Linked DNA regions of Homo sapiens. The protein of the gene in region 2 purifies or fractionates together with the protein of the main gene of each other region. This does not show direct contact. Each region holds a gene or a part of one and is shown on either strand. Other genes may lie near its edges. The genes, in order: SCAI and ZSWIM9.

Region 1 (3,821 bases), on a different chromosome or scaffold from region 2:
GGCAGGTGGATCACCTGAGGTCAGGAGTTCGAGACCAGCCTGGCCAACATGGTGAAACCCCATCTCTACTAAAAATACAAAAATTAGCCGGGTGTGGTGGTGGATGCCTGTAATCCCAGCTACATAGGAGGCTGAGGCAGAAGAATCGCTTGAACCCAGGAGGCGGAGGTTGCAATGAACCGAAATCGCACCATCGTATTCCAGCCTGGGTAACAGAGAAAGACTCTGTCTCAAAAAAAATAAAGCAGCAGCAGCACAGAGACTATATTAGGTTCTACAAACATGTTAACCTCCACAGACTGGTGGATGAATTCACACGTGTAGGTAGTGTGCTATGTGAGGGGCAAGTTTTTCACTAACACCACAAGGATCTCCAGCCCAAATTCTTTTTTTTTTTTTTTTTGAGACAGAGTCTTGCTCTGTTGCCCAGGCTGGAGTGCAGTGGCACAATCTCAGCTCACTGCAACATCTGCCTCCCGTGTTCAAACGATTCTCCTGCCTCAGTCTCTGGAGTAGCTGGGATTACAGGCGTGTGCCAAAACACCTGGCTAATTTTTGTATTTTTAACAGAGATGGGGTTTCACCATGTTGGCCAGGCTGGTCTCAAACTCCTGACCTCAAGTCATCTGCCCACCTCAGCCTCCCAAAGTGCTAGGAATACAGGCATAAGCCACGATTCCTGACTTTTCAGCCCGAATTCTATACACAGAAGTTTGATAGTAATCCTTGCTACATGAGAAAAAAGAGCTAACTTTTGATGAATTAGCTATGCTGAAATACAACTGTGATCCATATATATATATATATATATATATATATATATATATATATATATATTTTTTTTTTTTTTTTTTTTTTTTTTGAGATGGAGTTTCATTCTCGTCACCCAGGCTGGAGTGCAATGGCGCGCTCTCGGCTCACTGCAACCTCCTCCTCCCGGGTTCAAACGATTCTCCTGCCTCAGCCTCCAGAGTAGCTGGGATTATGGGCATGCGCCACCACACCAGGCTAATTTTGTATTTTTAGTAGAGATGGGGTTTCTCCATGTTGGTCAGGCTGGTCTTGAACTCCCGACCTCAGATGATCCTCCTGCCTCAGCCTCCCAAAGGGCTGGGATCACAGGCATGAGCTACCGCGCCCAGCCTATGATCCATATTTTATAGTAATTTCTTCCATACATTTTGGCACTACACAATATTTAAGTCTATATCCTTTTCCAATTTCAGTAATACTTATATAGAACTTCAGGAACACACATGATAATAAAACAGATGAGAATTTTTTAAAGAACATGTTTCTATCAAATAAAAGAAGAGGAATTATTTAGTTAAGATGAGAATAAGTTTATGAAGATTACTAACTACACTTTCAAACATTTAACTCATTTAATATACGTGTGTGTGTATGTATGTGAGTTTCGCTCTGTCACTCAGGCTGGAGTGCAACGGCGCAATCTCGGCTCACTGCAACCTCCGCCTCCCACGTTCAAGTGATTCTCTTGCCTCAGCATCCTGAGTAGCTGGGATTACAGGCATGTGCCACCATGCCCAGCTAATTTTGTATTTTTAGTAGAGGCGGGGTTTCACCATGTTGGTCAGGCTGGTCTTGAACTCCTGACCTCAGATGACCCACCTGCCTCGGCCTCCCAAAGTGCTGGGATTACAGGCATGAGCCACTGCGCCCAGCCAAGAGACGGGGATTAAAGAAGGGGAAGAGGTTTAAGGAGATAAGTGGGCACTAATGCCTTGTTTTCCTGTAGTAAGGGTAGCATGGGCCTCCTGGCTAAGAACTGGTTGGTTGGTTGGAAGATGGCCCCTCCCACACATACACCTATGCCCAAATAAAACTGGATGCACAAAAAGATATGGCCTCAGAGGAGAACACTAGAAACAAATCTGCTCCAGAGACATAAACATGAAGGAAACTCTACCTTAGCCTTTGTTCTGAGAAGAGATCAAGAAAAGTCTCCCCCAAGAATTCACGGCCATATGCTGATTCTCATGTGGTTTGAGAATCTGAATTAACATTATTTGCATGGCTGAAAAATCTATAAGGTTTTTCACTTAAAAAGAACAAAAACTGATACTGCCCCCAAGTTTTGAGGGAAAAAGCAATGCAGATCTTCGTTGGAAGAAGGCATCCTCAATTCAGGTCTTACAGAATTCTAGCTGACAGAATTACATCAAAGAAGACTCAGAAACAAAAATCATAAAACGCATGAAGAAAAAAGGCACGCCTGATTCAGCAAACAGAAACAGGATGATACAAACATCATACATAACATGCAAAAGTCTAGGTGTGGCAGCTCACACCTGTAATCCCAGCACTTTGGAGGGCCAAGGTGGGAGGATCATTTGAGGCCAGGAGCTGGAGACCAGCCAAGAGGCGGGGATTAAAGAAGGGGCAACATAGTGAGATGCACACCCCCATCCCCGGTCTCTTAAAAGAAAAAAAGTTAGTTTCATATGCTTAAATAGAAGAAGTAATTAAAATCATGATTAAGCCAATCAAAGGAATATGTAGAAAATAACCTAATACATTCATTCATTCATTCATTCATTCATTTGAGACGGAGTCTCGCTCTGTCACCCAGGCTGGAGTGCAGTGGCGCGATCTCGGCTCACTGCAACCTCTGCCTCCCGGGTTCAAGTGATTCTCCTGCCTCAGCCTCCTGAGTAGCTAGGACTACAGGCGCACGCCACCACGCCCGGCTAATTTTTGTATTTTTAGTAGAGATGGGGTTTCACCATATTGGTCAGGCTGGTATTGAACTCCTGACCTCGTAATCTGCCCGCCTCGGCCTCCCACAGTGTGGGGATTACAGGTGTGAGCCACTGCACCTGACCTATACTTTTAAAAATAAAAAATACAATAAATGAAATGTAAAAACTGAGGCCAGGTGTGCTGGCTCGCACCTGTAATCCCAGCACTTTGGGAGACTGAGGCAGGTGAATCACCTAAGGTCAGGAGTTTGAGACGAGCCTGGCCAACATGGTGAAACCCCATCTCTACTAACAAATACAAAAATTAGCTGGGCGCGTAGGGCGTGCCTGTAGTCCTGGCTACTGGGGAGTTTGTGGTGGGAGAATCAACTGAACCAGGGAGGCAGAAGATGCAGTGAGCCGAGATCATGCCACTGCATGCTAGCCTGGGTGACAGAGCAAGACTGTCTCAAAACAAAAAGAAAAGAAAGAGAATGCTGGGGGATTTGATTATAAATTAATATGCAAGCAAATTATCAGATATATAGTAATTATAAATATTAATATGATAATTTTAAAAGTGAGAAACAAGCAATAGAACAGACCAACACACTTGTAGTTAGCATAACTAGAGAGTATAGTTAGCAGAAAAGGACTTTAAAATAACTACTAAGTGTGATCAACAAAATAGACATGGTAGAACACAAATGAAGAAATAGAGAATTCTGCCAGAGAATTAAAATCTACTAAAAAATAAAAAAGGGCCAGGTGCCGTGGTTCATGCCTATAATCCCAACATTTGGGAGGCTAGGGCAGAAGGACTGCTTGAGGCCAGGAGTTTGAGACCAGCCTTGGCAATACAGCAACACCCCATCTCTATAAAACATAAACATTTTTGGAAGGCTGAGGCAGGAAGATCACTTCAGCCTGGGAGGTCAAGGCTACAGTGAGCCATGACTGTGCCACTGCACTCCCACCTGCATGACAGAGCCAGATACTGTCTCTAAAAAGAAAAAAAAAAAATTTTTTTTAAGACAGGGTCTGCTTCTGTCACCCAGGCTGAAGTGTGTGGCACAATCATGGCTCACTGCAGCCTTGACTTCCCGGGCTCAAGTGATT
Region 2 (3,821 bases):
TTGTGCCACTGTACTCCAGCCTGGGCGACAGAGAGAGACTCCATCTCAAAAAAACAAACAAACAAACAACAACAACAAAATAATAGCTAAATATTGAACATATGCAGGGCTTCCTACTTCTGGGCACGGTTCTACCCATTCTGCACACACACACACACACACACACACACACACACATACACATACACACTGCACTTTCTCACACAACAACCCCAACAGCCCTATAAGATAGTATTATCCCCATTTTACAGATAAATGAACTAAGGGTTGGAGAAGGTAAATAGGTTGTTCATAACTTGTTCCATGTCCCACAGCTAGTAACTGGCACAGCCAGAACATTCATAAAGCTTTCAGCACATAGCAACATAAATAAAATCAAGTCACCAGCTGTTACTATAACACCCCAAAATGGCTTCATGTGAAAACAGGCTATACGGCATAGAAAATATTCCCTCTGGGAGCCATGAAAAACTAGAAAAGCTGAAACTAAGCTGCAGGAGGCCTGTGTAACTACATAGCAGGGGAAACACGAGCCCCATATTCAGACAGGGCTTTGGGCGGCCCTTGATGAAACAGTACCCTGTGGTTATCTTTTGCCGCTTGCCAAGAAATTGCAGTTCTCCCTCTCCCGGGCACTTAGTAGCGTTGCACCTCCCTGCCCCCTTGCAGGTAAGCAGTGTCATGTGACTTGCTTTGGCCAATCAAGTGTGAGTGGGAGGGAGCTGCGGCATCGCATCCAAGGAGAAGCCTTCGCAGCCACCGCTGCCAGATATGGTAATTACGTTGGGCTGAATGCCCATCCTCCTGGGTCCCAGAATGACTCAGATAAACAGTACTCCCCCAACATCCCGTGGTGGCTGTGTAAGTGAGCAAGAAATAAAATTCAATGAGTTCAGCCACTGAGATTTGAGGGCTGTTCATTATTACAGCAAAACCTAGGCCATCCTGACTCACACAACCTCAAGACCCTCTATAACTCGCCCTCTAATTTTTCCTTTGAGGAGAGAAACAAATGCGTTTAGTATGTTGGGACTATTGCTTAATTTTCTTTCTTTTTTTTTTTTTTGAGATGGAGTCTCAATCTGTCACCCAGGCTGGAGTACAGTGGCATGATCTCGGCTCACTGCGACCTCCGCCACCCCAGGTTTAAGTGATTCTTCTGCCTCAGTCTCCCGAGTAGCTGGGACTACAGGCACCCACGAGCATGCCTGGCTAATTTATGTATTTTTAGTAGAGACGGGGTTTCACCATGTTGGCCAAGCTGGTCTCAAACTCTTGACCTCAAGTGATCCACCCACCTCAGCCTCTCGAAGTGCTGGGATTACAGGTGTGAGCCACTGCGCCCACCTTCTATTTTCATCTTCTTTTTAAGAATTAATTATTTGAATATGCAAACATCCACATGGTCCTAAAGTCAAATAATGTAAAGCGATACATAAAAGGTCTTACTCCCACCTCTTTAGTCTAATCAGTCAGTTTCCATTCACTATTCTACCCTCATCCACAGTTCTTGGTATTCTTCTAGAGTTTCTTTATATGAGTACAAGTAAGCATACCTATAATTCTTATTTGCTCTATTTTATAGATAATACAGCATATTATGTACAGTTTTGCATTTTGCTTTTTTAACTTAAAAATGTGTTTGAGAGATCTTTCAAAATAGTTCCTAGACTTGTTCTTATTCTTTTTTTTTTGTTTGTTTAGGATGGAGTCTCACTCTGTCGCCCAGGCTGGAGTGCAGTAGCACGATCTTGGCTCGCTGCAAGCTACGCCTCCTGAGTTCACACCATTCTCCTGCCTCAGCCTCCCGAGTAGCTGGGACTACAGGTGCCTGCCACCATGCCTGGCTAATTTTTTGTATTTTTAGTAGTGACAGGGTTTCACCATGTGAGCCAGGATGGTCTTGATCTCCTGACCTTGTGATCTGCCCGCCTCGGCTTCCCAAAGTTCTCATTCTTTTTTAGTGCTGTGTAGTAATCCATGGATGGATATACCACAAGTTATGTAACCATTACCCGTTGGTGGAGTCTGGGTTGTTTCTAATCTGCTGCTTTCACAAACAACAATGATTAACCTTGTAAGTAAGTCCTTCCACAGCTGTGCAACTACATCTGCAGGATAAATCACCAGTAGTGGGATTGTGAGCCTAAGGGTGAGTGTTCTTGTCATTTTGATAGATATTGCTAAATTGCCCTCCACTGAGATCATACCAGCTTCCCATGGAGTATTCTTTTTTTTTGAGATGGAGTCTCGCTCTGTCACCCAGGCTGGAGTACAGTGGTGTGAGCTCAGCTCACTGCAAGCTCCGCCTTCCGGGTTCACGCCATTCTCCTGCCTCAGCCTCCCAAGTAGCTGGGACTACAGGCGCCTGCCACCACACCTGGCTAATTTTTTGTATTTTTAGTAGAGACGGGGTTTCACCATGTTAGCCAGGCTGGTCTCGATCTCCTGACCTCGTGATCCACCCGCCTCAGCCTCCCAAAGTGCTGGGCTTACAGGTGTGAGCCATCACGCCTGGCCCCATTGAGTATTCTTAAAAGGGATACACTTGCATCAATGCTCGCCATTCTCAGAAGGCAAAGCATACACGTAAGAGAACGCTGCAACGTTTCCGGGCAAGGTCTCTCTTTTCAGGGCTTGCTTGCTGGTTACCCTGGTGCCTGCCACAAGTGAGGGAATGGAGATGTGACTGGACCCCAAAGCCCATCATCATCAGGCAGGGCAGGTGATAAAAGGTGTTAAAGGTTGGGTGCGGTGGCTCACGCCTGTAATCCCAGCACTTTGGGAGGCCGAGGCAGGCAGATCACCAGGCCAGGAGATCGAGACCATTCTGGCCAACATGATGAAACCCCATCTCTACTAAAACACACACACACAAAATTAGCCAGGCCTGGTGGCGCACGCCTGTAGTCCCAGCTACTCAAGAGGCTGAGGCACAAGAATCACCTGAACCTGGGAGATGGAGGTCGTGCTGAGCCAAGATTGCGCCACTGCACTCCAGCCTGGGAGACAGAGCGAGACTCCATCTCAAAAAAAAAAAAAGGTATTAACACCTCCCTGGGTGAAGTCGCCCCCCAGTCTTGCCCTTAAATCATGCCTTGTGGCTTTGGGCGCATCCTTCTTGTCTGATCCCCTCCAAAGATCAAGAGAGCAACCCAACTCAGGAAGTGCAGGCACTTTTTACAAATAATCCTTCCTTTGGAAGACTGCTGGGAAGTGGAAAGACTGATTGTTGCTTGACCTAGGCTTGGGATGAAAATTTAAAGCTTGCTGTCTGTCTGTCTATCTATCTATCTATCTATCTATCTATCTATCTATCTATCTATCTATTTAAAGGGTCTCACTCTGTTGTCAAGGCTGGAGTACAGTGGTGTGATCATAGCTTACTGCAGCCTGAAGCTCCTGGGCTCAAGCAACCCTCGTGCCTCAGCCTCTTGAGTAGCTGGGACTACAGATGCATGCCACCATGCCTAATTTTTTTTTTTTTAATTTTTTGTAGAGACAGGTGCTCGTTATGTTGGCCAGGCTGGTCTTGAACTCCTGGGCTCAAGTGATCCTCTCGCTTCGGCCTCCCAAAGTGCTGAGATTACAGGTGTGAGCCATCGCACCTATTATATTATCAATATTACATGTTATGCGTTACATATTATAATATTAATATAATATATAATATTATATTATATAATATATAATATATATAATATTATATATAATATATATAATATAATATAATAATAATATAATATATAATATATATAATATAATATAATATATTATAATATAATATATAATATATATAATATATATAATTAATATATAAT

The links.
Region 1: the proteins of ZSWIM9 (region 2) and SCAI purify together in Homo sapiens (affinity purification with mass spectrometry, with the first as the bait; one large-scale study listed by BioGRID). This does not show direct contact.

What each region holds. Positions count from the first base shown.
Region 1 is NC_000009.12:125,003,944-125,007,764, forward strand, and holds part of SCAI (protein SCAI), read right to left. Parts: intron 1-3,821. UniProt on the Homo sapiens protein: Tumor suppressor which functions to suppress MRTFA-induced SRF transcriptional activity. May function in the RHOA-DIAPH1 signal transduction pathway and regulate cell migration through transcriptional regulation of ITGB1.
Region 2 is NC_000019.10:48,187,449-48,191,269, reverse strand, and holds part of ZSWIM9 (uncharacterized protein ZSWIM9), read right to left. Parts: intron 1-3,821.